7 linked regions of the Homo sapiens genome follow. The protein of the gene in region 3 purifies or fractionates together with the protein of the main gene of each other region. This does not show direct contact. Each region holds a gene or a part of one and is shown on either strand. Other genes may lie near its edges.

Region 1 (4,714 bases), on a different chromosome or scaffold from region 3:
GGGATTTCTTCTCACAGCAAACTAAATTCATAGCATATTTTATTTTCTCTGGTTATAAATGTGGTCTCATATCTTGCTTACAGTTTAGACTCAGCATTTAGACTGATAGGCTCCATATCTTGTGGTATTTTATAGACTTGTTGCACTTCAAGAAAACTTTAATATCCTCAAATTTTAATAAAAAGGCCTAAAGGAGAGATTTGGTATAGAACATTTAAGTTAATAGGTTACCGTCTTCAGTACTGAGTGCTTAATGTATTTGAACTTTATTATATTATTAATACATGGCCTACAACTTTGGGGACAATATGCTAGTGGTCATAATCAGAATGAGAATAAAACATTGAATTTATATGCAAATGATAACTTTCTTAATATATAGTAGTTTGGATTTGAATTTAGGCCTCCACGGTGGGTGACTTGGAAGTTACTTTTTTAAATCTTAGTTTCTTACTTCCTGAAAAGACAATGATAGTACCCACCATATCTGTGTGCCATTGTTGTGAGGATGAACTGAGTTAAATATATAAGGTGCCCGTTGTAGAATATAGGGCCTTATATAAAATACTTTGTAAGAAAAGATAAAAATCACTCTTAGTCCCCAAAGATAACCATTTTAGGGGGTATTTCTTTCCAGTCTTGATCATGTATATGTACTTTTCATGAAGTTCAAATCATACCGTTTTGTATCCTTTTTCTTACAACATATAAACGTTCCAATTATGTCGTTAAAATTTATGGGGAGTCTTAATAGCAACATGATAGAATATCCTATGTTTAACCCAGATTCAGTAATCTAGATAATTGGTTCCTCCCAGTTTTTGCTATTATAAATGCTGTTTTTAACTGACTTTTGTTTTCTTAGATCTGAAGAAGACACTTGAATCATGGGTGACGTTAAAAATTTTCTGTATGCCTGGTGTGGCAAAAGGAAGATGACCCCATCCTATGAAATTAGAGCAGTGGGGAACAAAAACAGGCAGAAATTCATGTGTGAGGTACTGAAGAATACAGTTTGCATTTATGTGATTTATGAGGTTCATTTTGGGGTTAAAAGAAAAATGTTTTCTGTTTGGAGATGTTAATGTGTTGCACATTAGGAAACGACAGTTCTTTATTGTGACTTGACTGCTATTGTAAATCATTTTCAAGTCAGCATTACTTTTAAAACAATCTGACAGGTAAATTATTCTAATTAGAGCCTATATCTTCCTCAGCTTCCTCAGTACCAGTAGTGGGGATGGGAAAAGTTGGATCAACTGTTTGCAGTTTTATAAGCACGTTTAGAAAGCAGAGCAATTCTTGATTGCTTCAAATCAAAGTGCTTAAATACAAATGGAGAGCTTGTTCATGGATATTACAGAATCAGATTTTAATGTGAACCTTCTGTTATATGAGAAAAAAAAATCTGAGCCACTTAAATTATTTTTGGATACAACACAATTTAAGCTTTTTCAGTAGCTCATGCATTCTCTTATTTTTATATTTATATTTATAGAGTATATTTCCTAAAGTTAGCTGTTTGTTGTCTCTTAATGGACTACTGAATTACGACTTTTTAAAATCTCAGAATTACCCAGGTCAGTCTCTTAGTACTTTTTTTTTTTTTTAAAGGTTCAGGTGGAAGGTTATAATTACACTGGCATGGGAAATTCCACCAATAAAAAAGATGCACAAAGCAATGCTGCCAGAGACTTTGTTAACTATTTGGTTCGAATAAATGAAATAAAGAGTGAAGAAGTTCCAGCTTTTGGGGTAAGTACCTATGGCGAAGCACTTGAGATGTATGTTGTAAAGTTGTACAAACTCAATATGCGTAAGAGACTCAAGATAGTAATTTTTCACTGTTTTCAGATATATCGTGTTTCGTAATGAAATTTGGCATCTTGTTTTGTCTCAGCACTGGACAAAATTTCTGAAGATGTGGATTGCATCCTTATTATATACCTGTCTTAGGGGCTTGAGAAATTCCATTAATCTTTGTGTCTTATGGCTTTATTTCATGTATTTATACACCAGAAATTTCAGAGTCTGTTATGTTCCATTCATTACCAATGATAATACTTTAAATAAAATAGAAAAATCAGTAATATTTTAGACATGTTTGCTCCCATTGACACTCCCCCTGCCCCGTAAGCGATGAGGTCTTGCTCTGTTACCCAAGCTAGAATGCAGTGACACAACCATAGCTCACTGCAGCCTCAAACTCTTGGGCTCAAGCAGTCCTTCATCCTTAACCCCCTTAGTAGCTGGACTACAGGTGCATGCCACCACTTCTGGCAAGTTCTTTGTGTTTTGAGGCAGAGTCTTGCACTGTCGCCCAGGCTGGAGTGATCTCGGCTCACTGCAGCCTCCGCCTCCTGGGTTCAAGCGATTCTCCTGCCTCAGCCTCCGAGTAGCTGGGATTACAGGCACGCTCCATGATGCCCAGCTATTTTTTATGTTTTTAGTAGAGATAGGGTTTCACCATGTTGGCCAGGCTGGTCTTGAACTCCTGACCTCAAGTGATCCATCCACCCACTTCCGTCTTCCAAAGTGCTGGGATCACAGGCATGGGCCACTGCACCTGGCTGACATGTCCTTATATAACAAAATAGTATTTTATGCAATGGAGTATTTTTGTGTTTTTTATGTCATGATTATCTTAATTATATTACGTAAGTATGCAACAAATACCTCTGTCTAGTAGGTTGTTTTGGGGGATTTTTGTTTTGTTTTTCTGCCTTTTTTCTTTTTGGGGCTCAATCAAACTCTTGGCCTCAAGCCATCCTCCCACTTCAGCTCTTCCCCAGTAGCTGGGACTGTGGGTGTGTGCCGCTACACTAGGCTCTAGTAGTTTTTAAGAAATAAGGTTTTTTTTGTTTGTTTGTTTGTTTTGTTTTTTAAGACGGAGTCTTGCTCTGTTACCTAGGGTGGAGTGCAGTGCTCACTGCAACCTCCACCTCCTGGGTTCAAGCAGTTCTCCTGCCTCAGTCTCCTAAGTAGCTGGGATTACAGGCACCTGCCAACATGCCCAGCTAAATTTTGTATTTTTAGTAGAGACGGGGTTTTACCATTTTTTGCCAGGCTGGTCTCGAACTCCTGACCTCGGCCTCCCAAAGTGCTGGGATTACAGGTGGGAGCTACGGCGCCTGGCCCACGCCCAGCTAATTTTTGTGTTTTTAGTAGAGACAGATTTTCACCATGTTGGCCAGGCTTGTCTTGAACTCCTGACCTCAAGTGATCCGCCCCCTTCAGCCTCCCAAAGTGCTGGGATTACAGGTGTGAGCCACTGTGCCCAGCCTGTCTATGCCAGTTTTAACAGGGTCCTGTTACTGAATTTTTGTATTCTGCCTTGTTTATGACAGTATTCTGACTCGTTATGAAAGAAATCTTATTTCCTTCCATTCCTTTGACTAAGAACTCGATAGACTTACTTTCCGGTAGATTAACTGCTGGGTAATTATAGTATCTTACAGTCTTTAATTTTATTGGTTTGCCTATCTGTAAAATGAAGGGATTGGGCAAGATCATCTTAAAAATGCCTTCTGGTAGAGAAAACAGTTTTGCAAATGTCTTTTACATGTTTGAAGTCTCCCTCTATTCTTTATCTTTTAGGCTCTTCTCTATGGTCTTGTAGATCTGCTAGTGACAAATTCTCTTATTCTCTTTCTGAAAATATTTTTATTTTACCTTCTTTAAGAATATTTTCACTGGATGTAGAATTCTGGGGTACCAGATATTTTTTTCCCTCTTTTGGTATGTAAGTGGAAAAAAAAAAAAACAATTTTCCTCTTCTCTCATACCACAACAATCAACAAAGAAGATTTCTGTGACTAAATGTGGGGTGGAGGTGGGGGACTTTTTCCACACACCCCAAGCAAGCAATCAGTTCTGCAGCAGTCACTAGCAGGGTATCCTCCAGTTCAACTCTGACACTACCTGGAGATAGCGTCAGACTCCACAGGGTGAGGACTCAGTCCCACAAGACTCCCCAGCCCCTTCAGACACCACTTGCAAGTCTGGGCCTCTAGAACTTCTGACTGACTAGCTTCAAGTTATGGTTTTCATGACTGCCTCTTTGGGGTCAGTTAATTTGCTAGTGTGGCTCACAGAACTCAGGAAAACCTACATTTACCAGTTTATTATAAAGAATACTACAAAATACAGTTGGTGAAATAAGTAGGGCAAGATATGGCGGAGGCAGCAGGGAGCTCCCATGCCCTGCCTCGAACACCATTCTTCAGGAACCTCCACCTGTTCGGCCATTTGGAAGCCCTCCAAACCCTGTCCTTTGGTTTTTATGGAAACTTCATTATTCAGTATTGATTAAATCGTTGGCCATTGGTGACTTGACCTTCAGCCCTTCTCACTTCCCCAGAGGCTGGGAGGTGGGACCGAAAGTTTCAGCCCTCTAATCTTTCCTTGGTGGTTCTGGTGACCATCCCCCCACACCTGAAGCTACCTAGGGCCTGCCAGCCAGCAGTCAACTCGTTAGCATACAGAAAGTCTCCACTTAGGAGATTATAAGGATTTAGGATTTCTATGCCAGGGAAATGGGATTGAAGACCAGATGTACTTTTTTTTTTTTTTTTTGAGATGGAGTTTCGCTTTTGTTGCCCAGGCTGGAGTGCAGTGGCATGATCTCGGCTCACCGCCACCTTTGCCTCCGGGTTCAAGCGATTCTCCTGCCTCAGGCAGGAGTATCTGGGATTACTGGCATGTGCCGCCATGC
Region 2 (4,714 bases), on a different chromosome or scaffold from region 3:
CCTCAGAACCTGCTGCCACGCCCGCCCTGTCTGGGTGTACAATCGAGAGACCAGCTTTCAAGGCCAGTCTTGTTTTTCCCTGGTTTACCATATGACACTGCCAGGTCATCTCCTCTCTGGGGTAAAAGGGGATCAGGGCAGGTGCCCCGAAAGGTGAGGGCCCTCCCATTCTGGACACCTGGGAGGCTGGGATGTTTGGGGTTAGTGTGACCATATGAGTGCCCTTGGCAGGGGGGTGGATGGTGCCTCAGGATCCTCACTGCCCGTGACCCTCATGGCGGGCACAGGCTCCTCTCACCTCTGCACAGTTCTGGGGGAGGGACTCCTCTCACCCATGGGAACCGGAACTCGGAGGCTCAGGCCCTCTGTCGTCCCAGGGCTGTGGACCCCACCCCTGCCTCCGTCCACTGTGGCCTCTCAGCTTCTGCTGGAGTTCAGGTTGCAGAGAACTTTTCTCCCACCCCCAAATGTTGGTCTTTTCCCCAAGGCAGAGTCTGTTGCAAGCCAGGGCTCTAACGAGGACTTGGTGCATTTGAGACACTCTCAGCTGTACTTTGAATTTTGATTCCAGAGAGGTCACGACTCTGGTCAAGAGGGCAGACAGGGAGGTGGGAGGACGGGTTGTGTGCACCCTGGATAGGCCGGGGTAGGGGGAGGAGAAAGGAACGGCAGATGAGGGGTCCATCTTGGGTGGAGCAGAAGTTAAAGGTGAGAGCCCTCCACTGAGAAAGCGCAGCCCTGGATCTAGGCCTGAGGAATTTGGAGCAGAGGGGATGGGGTCACATCCAGGATCTGCTGAAAATTTGGGGGTGTCGAGGTCAGTGAGGGAAGCCTGAGTCCCACGGGAGCAGGTGGCAGTCCAGCTGTTTACATGCTAGAATGTTCTATTGAACACCCACTGTGAGCCATGTGCAGATGCCCCCCCACACTCAGTGCTGGGAGCACAGAAATGACTCATATCTGGCCTCAGTCTGTTTGGATAGACAGACGGTATGGCCAGTGCTATGGAGCCATCAGTGCTGTGATGGTGGGAAGAGGAGCAGGGCGGCGGTGGTGGGGGGAGTGCAGAAGGTGACATCTGGCGGGCGGGTTGTAGGACAGAGAGAGCGGGCAGCAGTGGGCTGAGGACACGCCCCGTGGAGGGACCAGTGAGTGCAGAGTGGGAGGGTGTGTGACGAGTGCCACATGGGACCTGCCAGACTAGGCCGATGGAGATTGCGGGGCCTGGTGGGTGGGTCCTGGGGCTGCCCCAACTTGGCATTTTTCCCAGCTTGTCGGGCTGCAGTGCTGAGGGTGGCCTGCAGGGGGCAGGCTGGAGGCGCTGATGGGGAGACGGGGAGACCCCCCCTGGCAAAAGCCCTGAGCGCTCGGTGGAGGTGGGGGACCCGCGGAGTCGCCTGCGCACTGCAAGTCCTCTGCGGGAGCCTGGCTACTTCCCGCCCCCTCCCCATGCCCATCCCGCTGGTACCCGGTTGCCATAGCAACCAGCCGGGCCTCCTGCACCTAGCAGGGGAGCGTGGATGGGCAGGAGCTGCAGTGTCAGGGGGACAGGATGCCAGGAACCCCGAGTGCTCCAGGGCCCAAGGGACATCCCCAGTCCAGCCTTTCCCAGGGAGGGATGTCCTGGATTCCCTGCCCTCTGTTTCCTCCAGCCCTGGACAAAACGCTCTGTGTTCCTGGGCAGCCCATTGTGTGCCTTTGGCAGGAGGGGGACCTGGCTCTGTGTGCTGCTGGCTCTGCGCTGGTGGCCGGAGCCCTGTGTCTCACGGTCACGTGACACCTCAGGATCCTAAGGTGCCGATCACCTTCACACCCACTCAGAAAACCAAAGCTCAGAGACGGGGAGGAAGCTTCCTGGGGTCACACAGTTTGCCAGCGGCGAAGCCCTGTCCCCAGTCTCACTTTTTCCTTTTTAGTAGATTGTTTTCAATATAACGTCTATACAGAAAAACACAGACGTGTACACAGTTTGATTCTTCTTAGACTGAACACCTGGTTTCACCAGCCCCCAGATACAGAGTGTGATGAGAACACCGAGGCCCCTTCACCCCACCCCAGGGCTCAACCTCCCCCTGGGCAGCTGCTGCTCTGTCTCCTCAAACTTCCCGGGCGGGTTCTGCCTGTTCTCACAGCTCCTGCATGTGGAGTCGGTGGGTTCTGCCTGTTCTTACAGCTCGTGCGTGTGGAGTCGGTGGTTCTGCCTGTTCTCACAGCTCCTGCGTGTGGAGTTGGGTTCTGCCTGTTCTCACAGCTCGTGTGTGTGGAGTTGGCGGGTTCTACCTGTTCTTACAGCTCGTGCATGTGGAGTCGGTGGTTCTGCCTGTTCTCACAGCTCATGTGTGTGGAGTCGGTGGTTCTGCCTGTTCTCACAGCTCATACATTGGAATCGGGCAGTATATGTTGTTTCAGGCTTCTTTCTCCGCATGTCATGTTTGTGAGTCATGCCTGTTGACACAGGTGGTTGTAATCTGGTCTCACTGCTGTGTAATGCCTGCAGAGTGTACCATGGCGGCCTGGCCACCCTCCTGTCAGTGGGTACCGGGCAGCTCCCAGTGTCCTCTTGGGCCTGGCTTTGGTGCGCACACGGACACCTTTCTGATGGGGAACCTGCTCTTTCGCCTGCCTGTGCTGTGGTGCTGCCCCGAACAGCCGTGTGATCGTGCCCCCGAGCCTTTCATTCACTGAGTCCACAGCGCTTTGCTGAGCAAAAGCAAATGAACAGGTCAATGAAGCGAGACCAGGAGGAACAGCAGAGTCTTGTGAACCCCAGGACTCTCAGCTCAGGGGCTCGGGGTGACTGCAGAACCATACAGGCGGTGGAAGTGGGGCCCCCCGACCCGGGGACGTCTGTTTCTCGCTCCTAGGCAAGGTTGGCCTCTTGCACCTCTTTCCATAGATCCCAGCTCTGCCTTTGGGGGGTGCAGGCCTGTGCACCTGCAAGAGGGCCCAGCAGTGCCCAGCCCCTCGGAGCCCGAGTCAGTGAGAGCACCCAGGACCGGGACCAGAGGCCCCCAGTCAGCACAGCTGCTTCAAAATTGAAAGCCAGGCTGGGCGCGGTGGCTCACGCCTGTAATCCCTGCACTTTGGGAGGCCGAGGTGGGTAGATCACTTGAGGTCAGGAGTTTGAGATCAGCTTGGCCAACATGGTGAAACCCCGTCTCTATTAAAAAAAAAAAAAAAAAATTACGTGTGGTGGCAGACGCCTATAATCCCAGGTACTTGGGAGGCTGGGGCAGGAGAATCACGTGAACCCAGGAGGTAGAGGTTGCAGTGAGCCAAGATTGTGCCACTGTACTCCAGCCCGGGTGACAAAGCAAGACTTCATCTCAAAAAAATAAAAAAATAAGAAATAAATTGAGGCCGGGTGCAGTGGCTCATGCCTGTAATCCCTGCACTTTGGGAGGCCGAGGTGGGTAGATCACTTGAGGTCAGGAGTTCGAGATCAGCCTGGCCAACATGGTGAAACCCCCTCTCTATTAAAAATACAGAAAAAAATTAGCCAGGTGTGGTGGCAGACACCTGTAATCCCAGCTACTTGGGAGGCTGGGGCAGGAGAATCACATGAACCCAGGAGGTAGAGGTTGCAGTGAGCCAAGATTGTGCCACTGTACTCCAGCCCGGGTGACAGAGCGAGACTCCGTCTCAAAACAATAAATAAGAAATAAATTGAGGCCGGGCACGGTGGCCCATGCTTGTAATCCCAGCACTTTAGGAGGCCGAGGTGGGCAGATCACCTGAGGTCAGGAGTTCGAGACCAGCCTGGCCAACATGGTGAAATCCTGTCTCTACCAAAAATACAAAAAGTAGACAGGTGTGGTGGCACGTGCCTGTAATCCCAGCTACTCAGGAGGCTGAGGCAGGAGAATCATTAGAATCCAGGAGGCGGAGACTGCAGTGAGCCAAGATGTGTTGCACTGTAGCCTGGGTGACGGATGGAGTGAGATTCTGTCTCAAAAAAAAAAAAAAATTGGAAGCCAGTCTCCCAGGAGAGGTGTAGACATGCTTTGGTTTCTCTCTGATATGTATTTATTATTGATCTTCAGTAAATTTGACTCTGATCTGTTAACATGGGGCTAATGATACCTGCATTGCAGGGTTGCTTTAAAAGGATTAATAATTTGTAAAATGTGTAGCCCAGACCCCGCCGTCCACTAAGAGCTCAGTAGGTGTCACTATTATCATTGATGCCACTTAGCAAATATGAGCTCTTTAAATCATTATGACAACTTTGAGGGGAAGATGCCCTTAGTCCATTGTACAGATGAAGAAACTGAGGCTTAGTGAGGAGAATGGATGGCCCCTGGGTCCCATCTCCCGTCGCTAGAGAACTGGGGAGCAAGAATTGGAGTTCTGGCCGGGCATGGTGGCTCACACCTGTAATCCCAGTACTTTGGGAGGTCGAGGCAGGAGGATCACCTGAGCCCAGGAGTTCAAGACCAGCCTGGACAACATGGCGAAACGCCACATCTACAAAAAGTTTTAAAAATTAGCCGGGTGTGGTAGCACGTGCCTGTGGTCCCTGTTGCTTGGGAGGCTGAAGTGAGAGGATCATTTGAGCCCAGGAGGTTGAGGCTACAGTGAGCTGTCATTGCACCACTGCTCTCTAGCCTGGGCAGCGGTGTGAGACCCTGTCTCAAAAAATAGTAAGAAAAAAGAATTGGAGTCCTTGTCCATCGTAATGCCTGCATAGTAGTCAGGGAAGAAGAAGAGCACC
Region 3 (4,124 bases):
TTGCCAGCTGGTGCTGCTTGCAGGAAGGGCAGTACCTACAGACAGAGCCCGAGTCAGCAAACGGACTTTTTCTTTTTTTTTTTTTTGAGACAGAGAATCGCTCTGTTGCCCAGGCTGGAGTACAGTGGCGCGATCTCGGATCACTGCAGCCTCCACCTCCTGGGTTCAAGCGATTCTCCTGCCTCAGCCTCCCGAGTAGCTGGAATTACAGGCATGCACCACCATGCCCTGCTAATTTGTGTATTTTTAATAGAGACAGGGTTTCACCATGTTGGCCAGGCTGGCCTTGAATTCCTGACCTCAGGTGATCCACCCGTGTCGGCCTCCCAAGGTACTCGGATGACAGGCATGAGCCACAATGCCCAGCCAAAACAGACTTTTTCTGAGCACCTACTGTGCGCCCTTTGTACTGCCTCTCACGTGCCATGTCTGGCTCACAGAAACACTGCTCTTACTATTAGCCCATCTAGTATTCTAGTTTGCTCTGTTCCTGTTAAAATCCTTTCACTCACTCGTCAAGTGCTTACTATCTTTTGTATATGTGCTCATACTATTTTTTGTATTTTTGTTTGATTTCTGTTCCATGAGATGCTAGTCTTATTTTAGAGCCCACCTCTATCCTTCTAGTTTCCTCTCTTCGTATTTTAGTCATTCATTCACTCCCCAGTATTTATTGATTGCTTGTTTAACCCTTTGGAACTATTTTGTATTTCTGTTCCATTTCTGCTCCACGGACATGCTGCTCTTATTTCTGAGACTAGGGAGTGTGGTTTTGGTTCTCTTTTTGTTTATTCTGCAAGTGTCTACTGAGCATCAACCGAACACTCAACACTATTATAAACAGGTAGAAGCAACACACAGTGAACTTAAGTCTTCACCCTCGAGGAGTTGACTCTAACGAAGATGACAAATAACACAAAAGTGGATACAGGACATCACATCAAGTGGCATCGCTGAGCTAGAAAGTAATGCTTGGCTAGGAAGAAAAGAGCAGAGAGGGGATGGAGAGGGATGGTGGGGAAGGGTGATTTTTAACAGGGTAGTCAGAGGAGGTCTCTCTGATGAGGTCACATTTGATCGGAGACCTGAGCATCGTAAGGAGTGAAGTCCTGTAGATCACTGGGAACAACATTCCTGGAGAAGGAACAGCACAGGCCAAGGCTCTGGGGTAGGAGTCTGCTCAGGAGATTGGTGGCCAGGTTGGCAAGAAGGGTTTGAGTGTGGAGGAGGGAGGAGGAAGGTATACTTAAAGAGCTAAATATAGGCCAGGTGTGGTGGCTCACGCCTGTAATCCCAGCACTTTGGAAGGCCAAGGCGGGTGGATCATCTTTAGTCAGGAGTTCGAGACCAGCCTGGCCAACGTGGCAAAACCTGTTTCTACTAAAAATATAAAAATTAGCCAGGCATGGTAGTGGGTGCCTATAATCCCAGCTACTCAGGAGACTTAGGCAGGAGAACAGCTTGATCCTGGGAGGCAGAGGTTGCACTGAGCCGAGATTGTACCACTGCACTTCAGCCTGGGTTGACAGAGCCAGACTCTGTCTCAAAAAAAAAAAAAAAAAGCTAAATATAGTAGTTCCATCCAATGAAACCCCCACACACAGGCCCCGCTCTGGCCCCTCACCAGGGGTTTTCCTTCTCCAGGGTCTCCACAGTGGTGAAGAGCTCAATGCACTCCTGCAGCCGCACGGGAGCCTTCTTCATCACGTACCCGACGCAGTCATGCTTCACGTAGCCCTAGGATTGGGTGAACAGACAACCAGATGGCCGGCTGTGAGGACAGATGGAGAAATGGGGAGTGGGGGCCCAGCGGGGGAGACACACACTGAGTGGGTCAGAGCACCGACTTTGAAGCTAGGAACCTCAGGCCCTGGAGCTCTCAGTAGGTGTTCAGGCCCCAAGGCCAAGCTTGACCTGGATCTCTTGGCTCTGTTCCCAGCTAGAGGAGTTGTGGGGAGGATGTACGAAGAGTTGAGGGGCAAGAGCTGGAAGTACCCCCCATCCCTGGGATCTCATTTACCTCAGCCTCTACCTCGTCATAGTAACGCTTCTTCATCTCTGGCTCCCAGTCGATAGCAATGTACGGCTGGGCTGGGGGTGAGGGAGAGGTGGTCATGGATCCTGCTGCCAGGAAATCTCCCCTCCAGCCTCCCCAGCCCTCGCTGATAGCCAAAGGAAATACCATGGACTTCTTCAGGGGAGGTTGTGCGGTCGCTGGTCCCATTGGAGTTCACCGTCTGCAGGGTGAACAGCTGCTTGCGTCGTCGCCTTGGGGGCCACTGAGATGTGCCAAGGCAATTGTCCAGGAGGAACGGGCACCTGTTCGTGACTCCAGAGCTGGGCCCAGCCTGCTCTGGCTCAGGGTCTCGGAGGCTGCCCCCAGTTGAGGGCCCAGGGACGTCATCTTTATCCTCCTCGTCATCTTCTAGGACAGGAGGATGTCAGAGATGGGAAGGTGTGAGCCTCAAGTGCTAAGCTGCAATGCACACCTAGACGAACCCTACGTGGGTCAGACCTAACCCAGAGCCCCCGCCCACTGACTGTTAGCCCCCTCACCTTTCTCATCCCCATCGTCCTCATCATCTGAGTTGGGTTTGGTCACGTAGCGTCTGCAACAGAGCAGAGGAGACTCCCAAGACGGGTACAAGGACAGTGGGGATAGAGCCCGGGATTTTACTTAAGATAATGGGAAGCCATTGGTAGATCCACATGTAAACCGTTCTGAATCTGAGGTGTGAGAGGGCTGAAGGGGTGACGCGTAAATGCATGAAGAGGCCAAGGCTGTCAGCAGTGGCCTGAGAATGAAGGAACTTGTGTCCCAGTCAGAGGTGTGGAGTGTGATTAGCTGGGCGTGGTGGCGCGCGGCTGTAATTGCAGCTATTTGGGAGGCTGAGGCAGGAGAATCGCTTGAATCCGGGAGATGGAGGTTGCAGTGAGCCAAGATCATGTCACTACACTCCAGCCTGGGCAACAGAGCAAGACTCCATCTCAAAAAAAAAAAAAAAAAAAGGTATGGAGCGTGGACTTTTACTCTAATAAGCCACTGCTAGACAAGACACATACCGGCTGTAACTTCCCATCAGGGAAAGCCTCTGGGGAATGACTTTTGAATGCAAAATGAGGGGGGAGAATTCTGATAACACAATGCTTTGTGTGCCACAGTAAAGACTCTAGATTTTAGGCAAAATGAAAATTTGTCAGCAAAAAGACAAAAAAACCAAGACTCTCCCAGGAGGGACAACAGTCTCCAGGAGAGACAACTGAAGACAAGATGAAGTTGTCTGTTTTGTGCATCTTGTTCACCTCTGTATCCCTAGCACCCAAGACAGGCAGTAGCAAAGCCAGAGGTCTAGAGAAAGAAAAAACCCTACAAGTTCTTCTATGGCCATGTTAAGTTTGGACTGTCTTTTGTTTGTTACAGGGGAGGTGTCAAATAAGCAGCTAAACACCCAAGTCGGAGTTCAGACCCCTCCGCCCCCCACCCCCGGGGAAGAGGACACTTACGAGAGCCGGTACATCAGGACGTTATACAGGCCCTCCCAGGTGAAGCGGTCCCGGGGCACTGATACCAGGAGGGGGTGTCCAAAAAGCATCAGGCCGTAGTAGGAGTTGTTGTAGTCACGGGCAGGGGTGCGCTCCCGCAGGTAGACAGGAACCACGATGTCCTCTCTTGAGCCCTCAATGGCCTCAATGCGACCTGACACCTCATAGCTGTGGGGGGTGGACAGCAGGCACACCTGATCAGGGCCCCCAGAGACTCCCTGACTCTGCCCTGGCTGCCCCACCCACTCATCCTCACAGCCTGAAGGCATTTTTATTTTTATTTATTTATTTATTTATTTTTGAGACGGAGTCTCGCTCTGTTGCCCAGGCTGCAGTGCAGTGGCACGATCTCGGCTCACTGCAAGCTCCGCCTCCCGGGTTCATGCCATTCTCCTGCCTCAGCCTCCCGAGTAGCTGGGACTACAGGCACCTGCCACCACGCCCGGCTAATTTTTTGTATTTTTAGTAGAGACGGGGTTTCACCGTGTTAGCCAGGATGGTCTCCATCTCCTGACCTCGTGATCTGCCTGCTTCAGCCTCCCAAAGTGCTGGGATTACAGGCGTGAGCCACCGCGCCCGGC
Region 4 (4,714 bases), on a different chromosome or scaffold from region 3:
AAACTAAATTGTCATTTAGGGATGCATACTTCATTGATAAACCACAATGGGAGATTTTTCACACATTTTTCTCAGTAACTGACAAATCAAGCAGACAAAAAGTAGCAAGGCTATGGAAGATATAAACAATACAGTTAAAAAGCTTAATCTAACAGCCATATATTGAACCCTATATCCAACAGTAACAGAATACACATTCTTTGCAAACACAGACCACTCATAAAAGCTGACAATATACTACACAAAAAAGTCTCCTATATGAACAATATTCTGTGATTGAGATGTAATTATTTTAAAAATGAATAATAAAAAGATAACTTAAAAATCAACATTTTGAAATTTTACAAATACACTTTTAAATGGTTCACTAAAGGAATCATCATAGAAATTAGAAAATATTTAGAACTGAAGACTAAATACTACATATAGAAACTTGTGATGTGAGCTAAAACAGTATTAGAGAAGACATTTACAGTTTTTAAACTGTTTTATTAGGAAAGAAGATGAAAATTAATGACCTGAGAAATTGGGGGTCAGAGAGAATAAATCCAAAGAAAAGGTAAGAAAATAAAATAACTAAACCTGTTAGCAAGCTAATTTGTTTAAATAAATTTATGTTATATCTTATCTATAGAAATATGTCCAAAAAAGGTTCTACCCAAATTATTCTAGTATCTATATTATTGAACCTCAACTGATCATCCCAACTGGCTGGTTAATTCCAAAGCCCAATACATATTTATCACAATGCTAGCATGGCTCTCCCCATCCCCATCCTCTTAACGACACAGACTTCTTTGGAGTCAAGTTCTCCAACTAGAACCTTAGGTAAGAACCCTTTCTCCACCCAACTAATTGAAGATATGATCCTCCCAAACCCCGACCTCTGTGTGACCTTGAGACTTTGAGAAAAACTCAGATTCTCCTGTAGAAGGAGGCTGTGCTTTGAAAAGAAACTCAGAAGTTCACTCAGGTTGTCCATGAGTTAAGTTGGAAAAAAATCCAACAAACTCAGTAAGAGATAACTGTAAAATCTCTGAATTATGTGGAATGGCTGCAAAACAAAAACAAAAACAACAAAAAAACACCTGTCCTTTCTTTCATTCCTTTTCTACTTAGCACCCTTTGCAGCTACCTCCAGCTGCCAGTGTGGGAAATTAAGGTGAAGGCTGGCAGAAAAGCAGCCTGGCTCCTCTTCACACTGCACAGTTTTTGATGGTGACATCACATTTCCATACCTGCACAATTTATTGCAATGGGCTTCATCTGAAACTGATCAACCTCTCAAATCTTACATGTCGACATTACAATCTGACCATAACCTCTTAATTTTGCAGTTTTCTCACTCCTTCACCCCATGATCCCTGTTCCTCAACATTCTGAAAACTTCCAGGCCTTGATCCATCAGCCCCTCCCACCCAGACTCCCATTCCTACCGAACGAGGACTCCAAAGACGGCCACTGAATCCCCCTCTCACTGTGGAAGCCATGCAGATCCAAAGCCCCCCACACTCACAGACCTGAGACAATCCCATGGTCTGGCAAAATCACATAGCCAGGCAAAATTGCGGTCACCCTACACGTGGTTATTCAATCTCAGCTGGACTCTCAACGCCACTCTCCAGTCGCTTTCTTATCCCTGGCTTAGTCTGAAATTGGAAAAGGGTTGTTCCTAAGCCTTTCCATTCTCCTCAAGCCACCGTTCCAACCCTGTGGCCTCTTACTCTCCTACCTCATAGAGAAGAAAATAAGGGAGATCTATCAGGCTTGGTTGAAACTACTCTGGCAAAGGTCATGAATGAATCATTCTTTTCTCAGCTTTTCTCGTGGCTAGCTGCCTCCCACCAGTCAGACTCCAGCTCAAATGCTACCTTCACAAACAGCCCTTAACTGACCCGCTGGAGAAAGCCATTCTCCTACTTACTCTCTCCATAGCCTTGTTTCATTTCCTCATTGGACATTTCAGAAAGGCAGAGAGACCTGGCCTGTCTTCTTCACTGTACTATCCCCAGCACCTAGAGCACAGGGGGTGCTTAATAAATATTCCTTAAACTAATTCTGTAGGAAAACTAGCTCTGATTTACTGAAGTTTTGAATTATTCATGACCTTCAGTAGCACACTCCTTGTGTAAAATTCAACACCCCTTTTCCGATTTCAAACCACGACCATCAACTTTTCTTCCTACTTCCCTTCATCGTCAGTTTAAGTCCCACACGTGCCACCTTCTTCAAATCATTGCCACCTCTGTCTACCATTCCCTCAAACCTATTTTGTCATTTTAGATTTTTCTTTTAGTATCTGGCTTACATTTTTCCTCTCTACATTATCCCTCTCTACATTATCCCTTATGATTTTCAATAACTTCTTCTACATGGTCAGTGACAAAGTCGGTGACTCCAACATTCATGTCAGCTGCTAACCACAGGACGACCCCAGCCAGCCTCAATCTTACCCTAATTGTTTCCTCTTAAAAACCTCAGCATTCATCTTTCCTACTTCCCTACTACATCCAGTGAAGCTGTTCATGCTGTCCACAGAAATTTCTCAGCTTACAGCCCCTCCACTTTACTCTTGGGTATGCACTTGATTTTTGACCGTTTTGCTGTCTGCGTCCAATTAATGCAACTCTCTTTACCTTATTAAACCTTCTGGTCTTCCTGTTACATGCTCTCTCCCACCTTATTATGCTCCAGAAGACCACTACAAAAGTCTTCAAATGCCATTTTATTATATGTAATTGCAGCCTGTATTATTTAAACTTAATGTGTTAAGATTCAAAGAAAAGCAAGACATGGGTAAGCAAGCAACAAATCTTTCTATCTTAAAGAGAAATAGAAATGTTAAACAGAGAGTTTGGGTATTCCACATTCTCATTTGATTATGACAAGATGTATAATTTACATTAATTCCTAGCTACCACTTCACATGATTATTTGGAAGAAATACTTACATAGATTAGTCCTGAATAGTAGCGATCCTTCAGATTATGTAAAACGGAAGCTTCATTCAAGCATGTCAATTCTGCCATATCCTCCACCTTGGAAAACTTAGGTGGGTTCATCTTCTGAATATCATCTTTGTTGACCATTGCTTTCTTTCCATTCTCTGCCAACTCCACCATAACTTCATCTCCCCGTTCTTCTTTGATACTAGCTGCCTCAAAACCATGGCGTTCTGATGGAATCCACACTAGCTTTTTAGCTGTCCAATCAGCTTGAGTGGCAGGGTTGTAGATGACAGCCCTGTCCACAAAGAGATACCTCTCTGGATCCTCGAGTCCAGTTCTCTGCGCCATTGTAAATGGAACGATCCAAAAGCAATTGCCTCTAAGAGAAGAGGAGGAGGGCAAAATTAGATGTTTAAGAAACAAAAGAATGTACACGTTTTTCTTTTCTAAGAAACTTAAAACCTTAGATTAAGCATTAACTCTGTGTTAAGGAGCTGGGGTATACCTCTTCACAGCCATACTAACCGAGTTTCCAAGGTAAATTTCAGCGGTGACCACAAATTATGGCTCTGGTTGTCTGATGGGTTTGCCCTCAGTTACTGAGGGCAAAAAAAAGAAAAGAAAAGAAAAGAAAAGGCAAAGTTACAAGTTGACCCTTTTTTTTCTTTATCTCCTCTTTCACCCTCACCACAAATTAAACAGGGAGTTAAGAAGGGAAAAAAAAAAAGAAAACAAAGATGGGTAATAAAAGGTTCATGAAGTGGTACCAGAATTAATATGACCACAAGGAAACAGCTACAAAAACACATGATTGTCAGAAGAGTAAAGAATCTAAAGAATCTAAAACATGCCTCTCATTCTACCCTCAGATAACAGACTTAAAGTTCTTCTTATGAATAACCCAAATCAGTCTCCCTCTAGCTTTTCTATGGCCCCATGAGGTCTTAATGTGATCAACTGGGACCACAAAAGACAAGCATAACTTGGCTTCACACGGCAGCCTTTTGAATATGTCATGGTAGCAGTTCAGGCCTCTATTCCCATCCTGCAGCTCCTCCACCCCTCATTCACCAAGACTCCTTCCCCTGCCGGATCTCTCGCCTAAACAGACTCCAACATGCTGCTTGTCTTCCCTCTAAAGTGTGTGGCCCAGAAGCAAACATCATAGCCCAGATATGGTCTGACCAGTGCAGAAGAAAAAGGAACCATCAACTATCTTAGCCACATTGAGGAAAGTACTGGTTCTGTGACATTTACAATTAATGTATCTCAAGACCTAGTTGTTTTATTTAGCACCCATTTACCATTGGCTCACAAAGGGCTAGCAGAGGAAGCTCCATCACTTTGTGGCTAAGCTATGTCCCCTCCTCTACTTGTGCACTGGCTTTCTGGACCAAATGGCAGGATTTTACATCCATCATCTTTCTAATGTGACTCATCATGATTGCCTGACAGGATCTTTTTGGGATTTGATACCAACTTAAACATTTTTGCTGCTACTCCAAATTCCAGGTTATTATAAATTTCATAGGCATGGCTTCCATCACTTCATTCAAACCAACAGAAGAAGCCAACTGAGTACCTACTCTTGCTCTATCAAATCCCCACTTCTCCCCTCTGTTCACTCCACTCCCCTAGCCAAAAATGCTAGAGGTTCTTTGTAGGCAAGAGGAAATCATAAAGTAGTCTAAGGTTGTTAAGAGGTTCTTGAGTCCATCAGCTAATCTCAACTTCAACAAAATCCCTGAAATGGTATAAAAATATTA
Region 5 (4,714 bases), on a different chromosome or scaffold from region 3:
CTCTGGGCCCATCTTATTTTTAACATATCAGCCCGGTTATTTTTAGTGGATAATTTTGCAGAGACATGAGTTTTTTTTTCAGGAATACCCATATGTTGTTATAGAAGCTCCTGAACACATGTGTGCACGTGTGCGCGTGCACACACACACACACACACACACACACACACTCTCTCTCTCTCTCTCTCTCTCTCTCTCTCTCTCTCTCTCTCTTTCACCCAAATCTTTGGGCTATAATTTACTAAATGACCTCATTCTAGTGCTATTTAAAAGAGTTTGTCATGCATTTTACTATACTGTTCTACAAATTTTATTTATAGTGGATATAAATTTTACTAGGTTTTAAAAAGATTATGCTTTTTAATAAAAACTAAAGTTGAAGGATTAAGGCTTGCTAAATTAGAGAGGTGGTAAAATGAGCTAAAAGGAGGCGTCCAAGGCTCCTTTACCTCTGAATACTGTGATGTTCTAATTGGCTATTCCAGATTGGACATCATTATTTTATGGAGATTTACTTTGCAGCATTTTTGAGCATTAATAATTTATAAGTGGACATAATAAAATAGAGCTCCATTTTGGGAGGCCCCATATTGTCACTTCATGGTACCATCTGGTTGTCTATTCCTTGTTAGCCAGGGTTGAAAACTATAGCGCATGGGCTGAATCTGGCTCACTGCCTGTTTTTGTAAATAAAATTTTGATTGAAGTATAGCCACCATGCTCGTTTGTTTGAGAATTTTCTGTACCTGTTTTTTTGACATACAGTATTGCCCAGGAAGCTGAAAATATTTACTCTCCTTTATGGAAAATGTATTAAGTCCCATGGGCTAAACAGATAGGCAGAAGGGACAGTTAAGTATCAATATTTTATATTTTTAAAATATATTTTTTAAACAGTCCTTAGAATATCACACTTTAAAATAATTTTAGGTAAGATCAGTGTGGGCATTGTTGATTTTTTTTTTTTCTTTCTTTCTTTTTTTTTTTTCGAGATGGAGTCTCGCCCTGTCACCCAGGCTGGAGTACAGTGACACGATCGCGGCTCACTGCAACCTCCGCCTCCTGGGTTCAAGCAATTCTTCTGCCTCAGCCTCCCAAGTAGCTGAGACTACAGGTGTGCGCCACCATGCCCGGCTCATTTTTGTAGTTTTTATTAGAGACGGGGTTTCACCATCTTGGCCAGGCTGGTCTTGAACTCCTGACCTCATGACACATCCGCCTCTGTCTCCCAAAGTGCTGGGATTACAGGCATGAGCCACCGTGCCCTGCTGGGCATTGCTGAATTTAAGCCAGTTTTGTGAGCCTTGGTTTTCTAAATGATTTGAATACTGTTTACTTTTTGTGGTATAATATAGAGAGTTTACATGCTAAGTTCTTAAGTTCATTGAAGGTATTAGTAAGGGCATGAGAAATAACACAGGAGTAGAATTAGGTGGATCTAACATAAGCTATATAAAAGTCAACAGAACAATTTATTTGAGTTAAAAAGAGGAGGGCTGCTGCCCCAGACCTCACCTTTAGTTTCATATGGGCCGGTTTCTGATGACAAATGGAATGAATCATAATTTTTAATTGTTTTGGGCATTTATTTTTCACAAAGTTGTCTAGCTTTGAATGTATGTAGTTTTCTTTCAGAATGAGTTGTTTAATTATCAAGGAATGCAACAAGCTATATTTTAAATTTTAAAATGAAATAAAGTAGAAAACGTGATTTAATTAAAACATCAGTCTGCAACGATCTTTAAGAAAATAAGAATGTAGAGGACCTGAATGACATAATTTATATTTCCTGTAGCTGTTAAATTCCACACCCCAAAAACAGAACGTTACACCTCTTTTTTAGAATAACTATGGAATGATTTGAAAAATAGTCTCATTTCTGAAGAAAAAAGAGTTGAACTCTGAGATCTGTTAGTAGAAATATAACAAAAACAAAAGCAACTCTTAGAAATTAAATCTCTAATAAACTCATTGGTTAAAGCAAAATTTTAGTCTGCAATGGGAGAATATCTAGGAAAAATTAAAATTAAATCACAATATATACAAGGCAGGAAAATCACATGATCCTGGGAGGCGGAGGTTGCAGTGAGCCGAGATAGTGTCGCTGCACTCCAGCCTGGGCGATAGAGCAAAACCCTGTCTGAAACACCAAAAAATAAAAAATAACAACAACAACAACAAAAACACAATGTATAAAAAATCTTACAAAGTTCAGCTTAGCTACAACTTTAGAAAATATGCTTCTTGAAGTATATGTGTCCTTTCATTACTAAAAGTGAAGACTAATAACACTTGAAAGGCTCACCTAGAGTTTTGTTTTTTTGTTATTTTTTTTTAAGAAATTCATCTATTCTAATAAGTCTTTAGAACATATTATTACTTTCAGATTAGAACCTTAAAAACAAAAATGATATGAGGGATCCAGGAACTATTTCCTTTCTTAAGAAGCTAATTTCTTACCTTCTTTTAAGACTCTTTTCATGAATTCTGGAAAGATGGAAGAAGAAGTGATACAGAAAAGAGAAACCTTAGGTCCTCTTTTGGAACAGATGGTTGTACTTGTATGATATCTTAAGAAATTTATGGCATCCTTACAGATTGAGTTAGAATTATTTTGTGAGATTTTCAGTGACTCATTTCTAAGTTCTTTTGAGATGGTGTTTGGAATAAAAGCCTTAAACTTTTTTTTAACAAGTAAATTTGGTATTAATGAAACTTTTTTCTAGATTTTCATTGGTATATGCTCTTATGTGGAAAGTGGATATCAGCTATGAATTACATAAATTGCATTTGTTACATTAATATCTCACCCGAATGGCAGCAGTTTTCTGGATATCAACATGTGTTTGTTTTTTATTGCTTATGTAAATCTCATGTAACCATTCCCCAAGGTCTAAAAAATAATCTAACTGAAAACAGTTTTTTCATGTTCCTCAAACTTGCTTTTAGAATAGTGCTGGCATAAGGATTTGATTTATTGTAAATATGATGCACCATATCAATCATGGAATTATTTGAATGTTTTTTGGAACTTTTGTGGTAAATTCCATATTTCTCCAGGACTTTTTTGTGTTCTTTCTGTTGACAAGTACTTTAAAGTTTTAGCAAGTATCACTATGTTGATTTCATGTAGGTTTATTTATTGTTTAGTGCTTGAAATGATTTTCTGTGTAAAATCAGTTTGAGAATTGGTTCGTCTGTCTCTGCATTTGCTGTGTTTACCTGAATTTTAAGTACAAATTGGAAATCGGTATCAGTGTGGGAATCATCAATTGTCTTTTCCGTAAACTTTTAAAGCCATTACAGTCACATTATGTATTAAAAGTGTGTTTAGATCTAAAGTCTAAATTTGCTTTTTGTTAAAATGTAGCATATTTGAATATCTGCACTAAAATTGCTGAAAAATGTGTTACTGCTTAAGCAACCTTAACAACGCTGTGCAATTATGACTACTGGTGATAATAAACTCTTCGGTATTGCGGGGCGGGGGTGGTTCTGAGAGGCAATTTCTTTTTGCCAGATTATTTAGTAGAATAATAATTAAAATTTATAAATATTTGGAAAAAGGGTAGGGTCAACAATGAATTGTGGGAAGCTTTAAGAAATATATAAAAATATTTCATTTTCAGTATTGTATTTGCATCTCAGTTTCCTGATAGATTTCTGTTTTGATTTTCTGCTGACAGGTCACATTTAGGGCAGGCAAAACATAAGGGATATAGCCCTCCTGAGAGTAGAAAATCTAATTCTAAGGCACCCAAAGTGCAGTCTAATACTACTTCTGAACTGTCAAGGGGACACCTTTCTAAAAGGTAAATCTTCATGTTGCTTATACATTTTCAAGGCAGAATTATTTGCATTCAAATCATTGCATAATGTTAAAACTTGAGGTTATTCCAAAACGTTTTGATACATATTTTCATTATTCTCTAAGTAACTTTTAGGATTGACAGTTTATCACCTTTGCAGTGATTAGTGCAGTATACCCTAGACAGTGAGTTTGTCAATGATAAAATGATATTTTTGTTTGGAGAGCCGTAAGATTCCCCCTTTGCTTAACAAACCATTATGGCCATTTTTTATTTCTTTTTATTTTTTAATCTTTTTTTTAGTTTTTATTGTCAGAGCCATAGTTTAGGTTTAAGTCAGTGATTCTTAAGATTTAATTGTTAAGAGACTTTGGAAAGCAATGTTAACTTTGAAGATTTGATAGTACTACAATATAAAAATCTCTAACCTTCATTTTGAAAGTGCGTATGTTAATGCTTATTTCTTCTAAGCTTTGACAAAGCAGTTGTGCTTGTGAATAGGGCATCAATATTCTGGCTTCCTCTGGTTCCGAACAATTAAGTGTTGTTTTTCTTGTAATCTTAATTCTTGTTTTGTGATTACGAGTGTTAGTGTCAGTAATCTTTGGGCTAAAGAACACCCTTATCTTTTAATCAGATATTTTAGTATCCAAAGTCACATCTGCTTTTGTTTTGTTCTTTTATTTCGTTTTACAGATTTGAACCTTCTGAAAACCTATGTTTAATACTGGACTTAGTAGGAACATATTCATACTTTATTTTTTGAAAGCATTATATATGACAGTTGTAATTATGACAGGCTGATATTAACTGTTTTCTTATCTAACCTCTTAGAAGCTGCAGTTCATCATCTGCTGTGATAGTTCCACAACCAGAGGATCCAGACAGAGCCAATACTTCAGAAA
Region 6 (4,714 bases), on a different chromosome or scaffold from region 3:
TCAATCTTCTCTTGTTCTGTGACGTTCAGTTTCTACGAGGGAGAGGGGAGAATGAGGGGTTGGGGCCACTCTTATCTGCATAGCCTTTGCTCCCCTACCATGGAATCTGACTTTGGAACTGTGTAATATCAAAATCAATTCTGTGATGTTTGTTTTATAAGCAAAAAAAGTGGAGGACAAAAATCAGTGGGGAGACAAAAAACTGCCTTCTGCTTGCTTTGATGGTTATCAGGCATTCACCCAACAATGCAACAGAGATGGCACTCTCAGACAATGCTTTTGTAACAAAAGGTTAATAGTCTACCCAGGGAGCCCAAAGTGACTTTACACCCAAGAGAACTGTCAGGTATGTGCTATGTAGACCACTGCTACCCAGGAACATGGCTTTCATAGGCAATAAATAAGCAAAGCTCACTGTTCACTCAAGCAGGCTGAGCCCTTGAAAGGCAGGCTCTGCTGCTCACTCTTGGCTAACTGCAAAGATGGCAAATCTTCATCCTCTGATGGGAGGCATGATTTCTGCAGGTAGTCCGAAATCATTTAGCAAAGCGTCTAATGATGGATCAAAATGAATTTTTGATGAGACTATAAAGTAACAAAACTGACGTACTGAGAACTGGCTCAAAGTAATCCAATAAAAATCAGTATTACTTTTTAATTTTTTAATTTTTATTTTTTAAGACAGAGTCTCATTCTGTTGCCAAGGCAGGAATGCAGTGTCACGATCTCAGCTCACTGCAACCTCCACCTCGTGGGCTCAAATGATCCTCCAAACTCAGCTGGGACTATAGGCATGCACCATCATGCCTGGCTAATTTTTATATTTTTTTTTTATAGAGATGGGCTTTGCCATGTTGCCCAGGCTGGTCTCAAACTCCTGGCCTCAAGGGATCTGCCCACCTCAGCCTCCTAAAGTCCTCCTAAAGTGTTGGAATTACAGGCGTTAGCCACTGCACCCAGCCAAAAATCAGCATTCCATTTTAAACTAATATATTAATAACAAGGCATTATTTTTATCTATGATGTGCTTGATATAAAAAAATATGCAAAGAAAATCAACTCTGATCCCATCATGCTGTATGAGCAATTTGGTGTCTTTCACAGCTTTGTCAAGGCATCACTGCAACAGGCAGGCAGTTACCCAAGCACACAGCTTCAGAGGTCAATTCTCACTAACAGTTTGGTATGTTTCTCTAGGGGGTTAAAAAAAAGTCAGGGGATCCTGCTCATCGTGTGAGTCACACTATGCAGGGGTATGAAGGGACAGAGAACAAGGTATGTGTGGAGGTGTCCGGGAGACTGGCAGGGGGTGGTGCAGACAGAACGGTAACAAGACATTTTGTCTGGGGGCTGGTCGGGCAGGGAGTAATTACAGAGTGCCACAAAAGCCAGGCCTAAACCAACGAGTCAGGGACAGAGACAACAAAGGAACTCCTCCTTTTCCCTCGTGTACAGAATGAATTCATGGAGGAGAGGGACTAGATTCAAGAATAGACGGAGGCTGTGGCTGGGCTTGGACTGGGCCTAGAGAGCTTTGTTATTTTTATTTTTTGAGACAGAGTCTCACTCTGTTGCCCAGGCTGGAGTGCAGTGGCACAATCTCTGCTCACTGCAACCTCTGCCTCCCAGCTTCAAGCGATTCTCATGTCTCAGACTCCCAAGTAGCTGGGACTACAGGCGTGCACCACCATGCCCGGCCAATTTTTGTACTTTTAGTAGAGATAGGGTTTCACCATGTTGGCTAGACTGGTCTCCAACTCCTGACCTCAAGTGATCCACACACCTCAGCTTCCCAAAGTGCTGGGATTACAGGTGTGAGCCACTGCACCTGGCCCGGAGTGTTTTTAGACAGGGGTTTTCAAACCAGTCCCATCTGATGAGCGCCACAGGAATTACGGAGGGACGGGCCGAAGGGAGGGTAAATGAGATAAAACCTGCAGAGTCGGGTGGGTTGCTGGGTCCCCAGCCCTACTTCACCTCCAGCAGCTCTTTTATGTTTGACATACTGAGATTTCCAGATTTTACTTAACAGGAACTCCACTGTTAAAGTCAGTAGAATTATAGTAAATAATTCCAAAGTTCATGAGAAATTAGTCACCATGGACACTACCACAAACACCCCTGAGAGCCACTCTTAAAATCTGGATCTTAATTTCTTCAAAGGTCCAGAGAGTTGCAGGGGGGAAGAAACCTCAGGGCTCGAAGTGTCTCATTCTTCTGATGCAATTCCATCTGCTCCCAAAAGTGGGGTGAGGCAGCGGGCAGGTTAGAATTATGTCATGCATGGATTGTTCTCGTGCGTGACAGGGAATCCAATAGGCTTCTACAGCTCTCAGAATAAGCTCTTCCATAAACAGGAAAGCCCCTGGGCCTGGGAGACGCTCTGGTGGCATTAGACACATTAGTTATCAGGAGGCAGGTCCTACCTTGCTAACCAGGGCAGGCGCAATAGTTTTATTGATGTGCTCAACAGCCTTTGAGACACCTGGAAGGAACAATCAAATCAAATTACTGACATTAACTTTAAAACAGGCTTGAGCAGCATTGTTAGAGAGAACCACTGTTGAGGCCGACGCGGAAGCCCACCAAGGGACCTTCTGTGGGACCTCTTCCCCCTCTCCCCTTTCCCCCCAGAATCGGAGGACTTTCCGGCCCAGTCTGAGTGCTCCTACCTAGGACCCCAGAGGGTTAGAGCCACACAAAACAGCAGCTGGCTCAGAACGATCTGACTGGAGGTTAGTTTGCAAGACCATGCACTGGAAACGCCAACTGCAGACTAAAGGCTGTTCAATCAGTTACCTGAGTGCACAGGGCTGGTGCCAGGAACTCATTAATATACTTAATGGGTCTGGAGACGCCTGCCCAGCAGAGGATGAAGAAGGAAAAATGAGAGAGACTCAGAAGAGAACCGGTGATTAAGGACTGCGAGTGAGAGACAGTGAGGGGGCAGGAAAGCAGAGGAGAGCATTTCAGGGGCCATGCGTTCAATCTTCCACAAATGCTTACTTACTGAGCACTCATTACCATCAAGGCACAGCATCATCCTGCTCCGGCTAAGTCCCCACGTACGCCATTAAACAACGGTCAAATGGTAACATGTTCGTGTGTGTAGAGTGCTTCTTACAGCATTAAAGCGGGACTGAACACCCAGCACCACCACTGCGACACCAGCCCAGTGTTTCACAACCTGATTTCATCATTGTCCCCTCCCTGCAGCCTTTTTGGAGTTTTCCGGGTGCCCCACTGAGAATGCGTGATCTAGCCCTATGTGCTTTTCTGTAATTTGGCCACATGTTCTATCTCTAGAAAGGTCAATGTTGCACACACACTAAGTCAATTTGAATACAGCCAGAGGCTAGCTCTGCCACAGAGCAGGGCTCCTATGAGTCAGTCAACAGGAAAATCACACTAAATGACACACCTGCAGCTCACCATTCAGGGCAGGTCATTGGTTAGACCTTCCCTGGATCCTTTCTAGCCCGTGAAGAGGCTGATGATCTCTGGAGGGCCCACAGAACCCTCCTGGGAGATGGGGAAACTTTTCTTTAGTTAACAGGCCCTGTTCTCATGCTTGGGTTCCTGTCCTAACCGTGAAGGAGTATTTCGCAGATTGGGAACAAACTGCAATAGAAGCAAGCATTGGAACTCTCGACCCAGAGCATGCAGGCTCGGGAACCCCGGAATCCACACACCAACTTTCCTGTCCACAAGGTGGTGCACTGCTTCCATCAACATCATGGGTCACAGCAGGTTTACCTGCCATAAACCTGCAAGTGCAAGTGCCACCCAGAGAGGACAGGACTGGGCAAGGCCAGGAATGGGGCTGGAAGCAGGGAGGCCATGGGCTGTGGGTTCTAAGGCTTACCCTTCCCCATATAGCGAGTCTTATCATTGTCCCGGAGCTCTAGGGCCTCATAGATACCAGTTGAAGCACCACTGGGCACAGCAGCTCTGAAGAGACCTGGATGAGAGGAAAAAAGATGTAGTAGCAATTCAGAAATCCAGTTCCAGCACAATCCCAAGTCCCCTCCCGCCCACAGATGCATTTGTCATTAGGGAGCTGTTTCTTCCTCCTACCAGCTGTGTGAATTAAACGCTCTGGGCTGTTCTTCATGCCTTTCACATGTTTATGATCCTGTACTGCAGAACTTACTGCAAAGATGACTAATTCCTCTAGCAGAAAGAAAGTGTTCTACAGCAGAGCCTACATGCCACCTGGAGGTCTTGTTAAAATGTAGATTCTGACCCAGGCAAATATGCATCCCTCACAAGCTCGCATTGGTGCCCTGTGGATTACTCCAGCAGCACTGCCCAAGAGAAATCCAATGCGAGCCACACAGGGCATTGAAGACGTTCTGGTACTTTTTTTTTCTTTTGAGACAGAATCTCGCTCTATCCCCCAGGCTAGAGTGTATGGCGTGATCTTGGCTCACTGCAATCTCCACCTCCTGGGTTCAAGCGATTCTCCTGCATCAGGCTCCCCAGCAACTGGGACTACAGCAGCCTGCCACCACGCCCGGCTAGTTTTTTTATTTTTAGTAAAGATGGGGTTTCACCATGTTGGCCAGGCTGGTCTTGAACTCCTGATCTCAGGTGATCTGCCCACCTCGGCCTCCCAAAATGCTGGGATTACAGGCATGAGCCACCATGCCCAGACAGGTACTATATTGATGTTAAGCATAAAATTAGGGTAATTTAACTGGCTCAGGAGGAG
Region 7 (3,500 bases), on a different chromosome or scaffold from region 3:
TAAAACGTACTGTAGTGTCTACCACGGACCAGGCACTATTCTAAGTTCTAGGGATACAGTGATTAAATTAAGACCAAGCCCCTGTACTGACATTTTATTGTTGTTTTGAATTAAGTTAATTATAGACTCTTCATACTAGGATGTAATCAACAGGGCTGACCCTAAAGTTGGGAAATAGGCAGTTGTCAAAATTGTGCAATTTAAAGGCTACTGCATGACTTACTTGCTCTGGAATATTTCTGACCTATCTGTCGAAGACTCCCAGACTATTGGGTTATGGCGCTGTTACCAACCTGCTTTGATAAATATAAGTATGTTCCATCATTTATCACACTTTTAGCAAAGAAAACTGAGAGAAAATAAATGGGAACTAGAATTGGACACGGTGATGCTTACCTGTAGTCCTAGCTACTCAGGCGGCTGAGGCAGGAGGAATGCTTGAGCCCAGGTGTTTGAGGCCAGCCTAGGCAACATAGCCAGATTCTGTCTCAAAAAAAAAAAACAACAAGCAAGCAAAAAACAAATGGGACTAGGACTGATATGTTGGTGTTGTAAGAGAAGAGGTTAGCAAAGTATAATTTTAATAGCAGCTATTGTTTTTTCTTTTTTTTTGAGACGGAGTCTCGCTCTGTCACCCAGGCTGGAGTGCAGTGGTGCAATCTTGGCTCACTGCAACTTCCGCCTCTCGGGTTCAAGCGATTCCCCTGCCTCAGCCTCCTGAGTAGCCGGGATTACAGGTGCTCACGACCATGCCTGGCTAATTTTTGTATTTGTAGTAGAGGTGGGGTTTCACCATGTTGGCCAGGCTGGTCTCGAACTTCTGACTTCAGGTGATCTGCCCGCCTTCGCCTCCCAAACTGCTGAGATTACAGGCATGAGCCACTGTGCCTGGCCAATAGCAGCTATTGTTTATTGAGCTTTTACTACCATGTCAGATATTATGCCAAGTGAGTATTTTTGTATACATTAGCTCAATCACTGTGTCACCTCAGTGGTGCTGGTGTTATGACCTTCATTTTACAGATTAGGAAACTGAGGGGCAGAGATGTTAAATTTGCTCAAGCTTATTTGGTGGTGCTGGAATTTGGGTCTCTGCTAGTACTAAGCAGGTAGTAGATACTAATGTGGAAAGAGTACTTATGTGTGTTGTGTGTGTATATATATATATATATACACATATATATACACACCATATATAGTGTGTATATATGTGTATATATGTATACACACATATATAGTGTGTATATATGTATACACACATATATAGTGTGTATATATGTATACACACATATATAGTGTGTATATATGTGTATATATGTATACACACATATATAGTGTGTATATATATGTATACGCAATATGTATTGTGTATATATGTGTATATATGTATATACAAGAGTACTTATGTGTGTTGTGTGTGTGTATGTATATACACACATATATACACACATATATTGTGTATATATGTATATAGACATATATACATATACATATATAGACATACATACATATGTGTGTGTATATATGTATATAGACATATACACAATATATGTGTGTGTATGTATACACACACATATACATATAGAACATATATACATATACATATAGAACATCAGAAGTCTGTGTGTGTGTGTGTATATATATGTATACACATATATATACACACACACACATAGAGACAGACTTCTGATGTTCTGCTAGGATGTGTGACACATCACAGAGGTGGGCGACCTTGGTGTGGGAGTGATGGGTGTGGGGAGTCAGGATAGCTTGTTGGGTGAGGGGTGGGAATTGGGGTTGGAAGGAGATGGGAGGGTATTACTTGCCTAACTACTTGGTCGTCAGGCTTAATCCTCTCTCTGACAGCCCTGGGGTTCCAGAGTTGCGTTTAAGCACAGTGCTTTCTTGTCCAGCTCCTGGGTAAGAGGATAGGCAGACCTGAGGCAATCCTGGTTTTGTCACTCATTAACTTGGTCAAATTATTTCATTTCTCTAGGCTTCAGTTTTCTCATCTATAAAATGGAAGTAACAATATTACCTACCTGGTGTGGTTCTTATGAGGATTGAATTAGATAATAATACATGTAAAACACAGATCACACTGGCTAGCACATAGTGTACATTCATTATTATTGTTGTTACTGTGTTTTTTTTTGTCATGTTTAATGTGGAATTTTCATCGAAAAGCAAGAAGAGCAATATATTAGTGATTTGGTTGGAATCTTGAAGTTGGCTTTTTTTTTTTTTTTTTTTTTTTGAGATGGAGTCTCGTTCTGTTGCCCAGGCTGGAGTGCAGTAGCGCGATCTTGGCTCACCACACCTTCTGCCTCCCAGGTTCAAGCAATTCTCCTGCCTCAGCTTCCCGAGTAGCTGGGACTACAGGCACGTGCCACCATGCCCAGCCAATTTTTGTATTTTTAGTAGACACGGGGTTTCACTATGTTGGCAAGCTTCCCTTTTGATTTATGTGCAAACTGGAATTAGAGAACTACTAGCTTAAACTTTTTCTTTATCTTTTGGTTAGGGAGGGCTTCAACAAGATTAACGACAATTTGCTTGGGTTAACCAGGCAGTATGTGGTAGAGGGAAGTGAAATATGTTACCAGAATCTCTTCATTGACTTTTTTTTAAAGCTTATTTGGGGCTTATAGCATTGTATGGAGAAGACAATGCAGTGTTAAATTTCGCACCTAAATTAGATTGTAATGACTGTTTCAGCTTTTTGTTTGTTTGTTTGTTTGAGATGGAGTCTCGCTCTGTCACCCAGGCTGGAGTGCAGTGTTGCCATCTCAGCTCACTGCAAGCTCCGCCTCCTGGGTTCACGCCATTCTCCTGCCTCAGCCTCCCAAGTAGCTGGGACTACAGGCTCCCGCCACCACGCCCAGCTAATTTTTCTTATTTAGTAGAGATGGGGTTTCACTGTGTTAGCCAGGATGGTCTTGCTCTCCTGACCTCGTGATCTGCCCGACTCGGCCTCCCAGAGTGTTGGGATTACAGGCGTGAGCCACCGCGCCTGGCCTGTTTCAGCTTTTTAACTAGCTTCATTCGGAGGTGATTAGTTAATATTAGTTAAAATTGTTAATTTTTAACGATTATACAAATAGTAAAAATGTATAAATACATGTTTGTATAGATCTTTTTTTTTTTTTGAGATGTAGTCTCACCCTGTTGCCCACGCTGGAGTGCAGTGGCATGATCTCAGCTCACTGCAATCTCCCCCTCCCAGGTTCAAGCGATTCTAATGTCTCAGCCTCCTGAGTAGCTGGGATCACAGGCATGTGCCACCATGCCCGGCTAATTTTTATATTTTTAGTGGAGACGGGGTTTCACCATGTTGGCCAGGCTGGTCTCGAACTCCTGACCTCAGCTGAGCCACCCGCCTCAGTCTCCCAAAGTGCTGGGATTACAGGAGTGAGCCACAGCGCCCGGCCGTTTCTATAGATCCGGTCATTTCTATAGATCTTAAAAACTTTCAAAAACTTAGATTTCTTTAGATAATG

Evidence for each region.
Region 1: the proteins of USP11 (region 3) and DHX9 purify together in Homo sapiens (affinity purification with mass spectrometry, with the first as the bait; 2 studies listed by BioGRID). This does not show direct contact.
Region 2: the proteins of USP11 (region 3) and KIAA0930 purify together in Homo sapiens (affinity purification with mass spectrometry, with the first as the bait; 2 studies listed by BioGRID). This does not show direct contact.
Region 4: the proteins of USP11 (region 3) and MYH10 purify together in Homo sapiens (affinity purification with mass spectrometry, with the first as the bait; 2 studies listed by BioGRID). This does not show direct contact.
Region 5: the proteins of USP11 (region 3) and TRIP12 purify together in Homo sapiens (affinity purification with mass spectrometry, with the first as the bait; 2 studies listed by BioGRID). This does not show direct contact.
Region 6: the proteins of USP11 (region 3) and ENO1 purify together in Homo sapiens (affinity purification with mass spectrometry, with the first as the bait; 2 studies listed by BioGRID). This does not show direct contact.
Region 7: the proteins of USP11 (region 3) and MYO6 purify together in Homo sapiens (affinity purification with mass spectrometry, with the first as the bait; 2 studies listed by BioGRID). This does not show direct contact.

Annotation. Positions count from the first base shown.
Region 1 is NC_000001.11:182,841,680-182,846,393, forward strand, and holds part of DHX9 (ATP-dependent RNA helicase A), read left to right. Parts: intron 1-865; 5' UTR 866-887; coding exon 888-998; intron 999-1,614; coding exon 1,615-1,755; intron 1,756-4,714. UniProt on the Homo sapiens protein: Multifunctional ATP-dependent nucleic acid helicase that unwinds DNA and RNA in a 3' to 5' direction and that plays important roles in many processes, such as DNA replication, transcriptional activation, post-transcriptional RNA regulation, mRNA translation and RNA-mediated gene silencing.
Region 2 is NC_000022.11:45,205,955-45,210,668, reverse strand, and holds part of KIAA0930 (uncharacterized protein KIAA0930), read left to right. Parts: intron 1-4,714.
Region 3 is NC_000023.11:47,242,983-47,247,106, reverse strand, and holds part of USP11 (ubiquitin carboxyl-terminal hydrolase 11), read right to left. Parts: intron 3,712-4,124; coding exon 3,505-3,711; intron 2,610-3,504; coding exon 2,557-2,609; intron 2,426-2,556; coding exon 2,183-2,425; intron 2,092-2,182; coding exon 2,021-2,091; intron 1,738-2,020; coding exon 1,625-1,737; intron 36-1,624; coding exon 1-35.
Region 4 is NC_000017.11:8,619,951-8,624,664, forward strand, and holds part of MYH10 (myosin-10), read right to left. Parts: intron 3,328-4,714; 5' UTR 3,297-3,327; coding exon 2,952-3,296; intron 1-2,951. UniProt on the Homo sapiens protein: Cellular myosin that appears to play a role in cytokinesis, cell shape, and specialized functions such as secretion and capping. Involved with LARP6 in the stabilization of type I collagen mRNAs for CO1A1 and CO1A2.
Region 5 is NC_000002.12:229,859,504-229,864,217, reverse strand, and holds part of TRIP12 (E3 ubiquitin-protein ligase TRIP12), read left to right. Parts: intron 1-3,686; coding exon 3,687-3,812; intron 3,813-4,643; coding exon 4,644-4,714. UniProt on the Homo sapiens protein: E3 ubiquitin-protein ligase involved in ubiquitin fusion degradation (UFD) pathway and regulation of DNA repair.
Region 6 is NC_000001.11:8,868,026-8,872,739, forward strand, and holds part of ENO1 (alpha-enolase), read right to left. Parts: intron 3,962-4,714; coding exon 3,866-3,961; exon of another isoform or gene 2,859-3,865; coding exon of another isoform or gene 2,800-2,858; exon of another isoform or gene 2,486-2,799; coding exon 2,427-2,485; intron 33-2,426; coding exon 1-32. UniProt on the Homo sapiens protein: Glycolytic enzyme the catalyzes the conversion of 2-phosphoglycerate to phosphoenolpyruvate. In addition to glycolysis, involved in various processes such as growth control, hypoxia tolerance and allergic responses.
Region 7 is NC_000006.12:75,755,739-75,759,238, forward strand, and holds part of MYO6 (unconventional myosin-VI), read left to right. Parts: intron 1-3,500. UniProt on the Homo sapiens protein: Myosins are actin-based motor molecules with ATPase activity. Unconventional myosins serve in intracellular movements. Myosin 6 is a reverse-direction motor protein that moves towards the minus-end of actin filaments.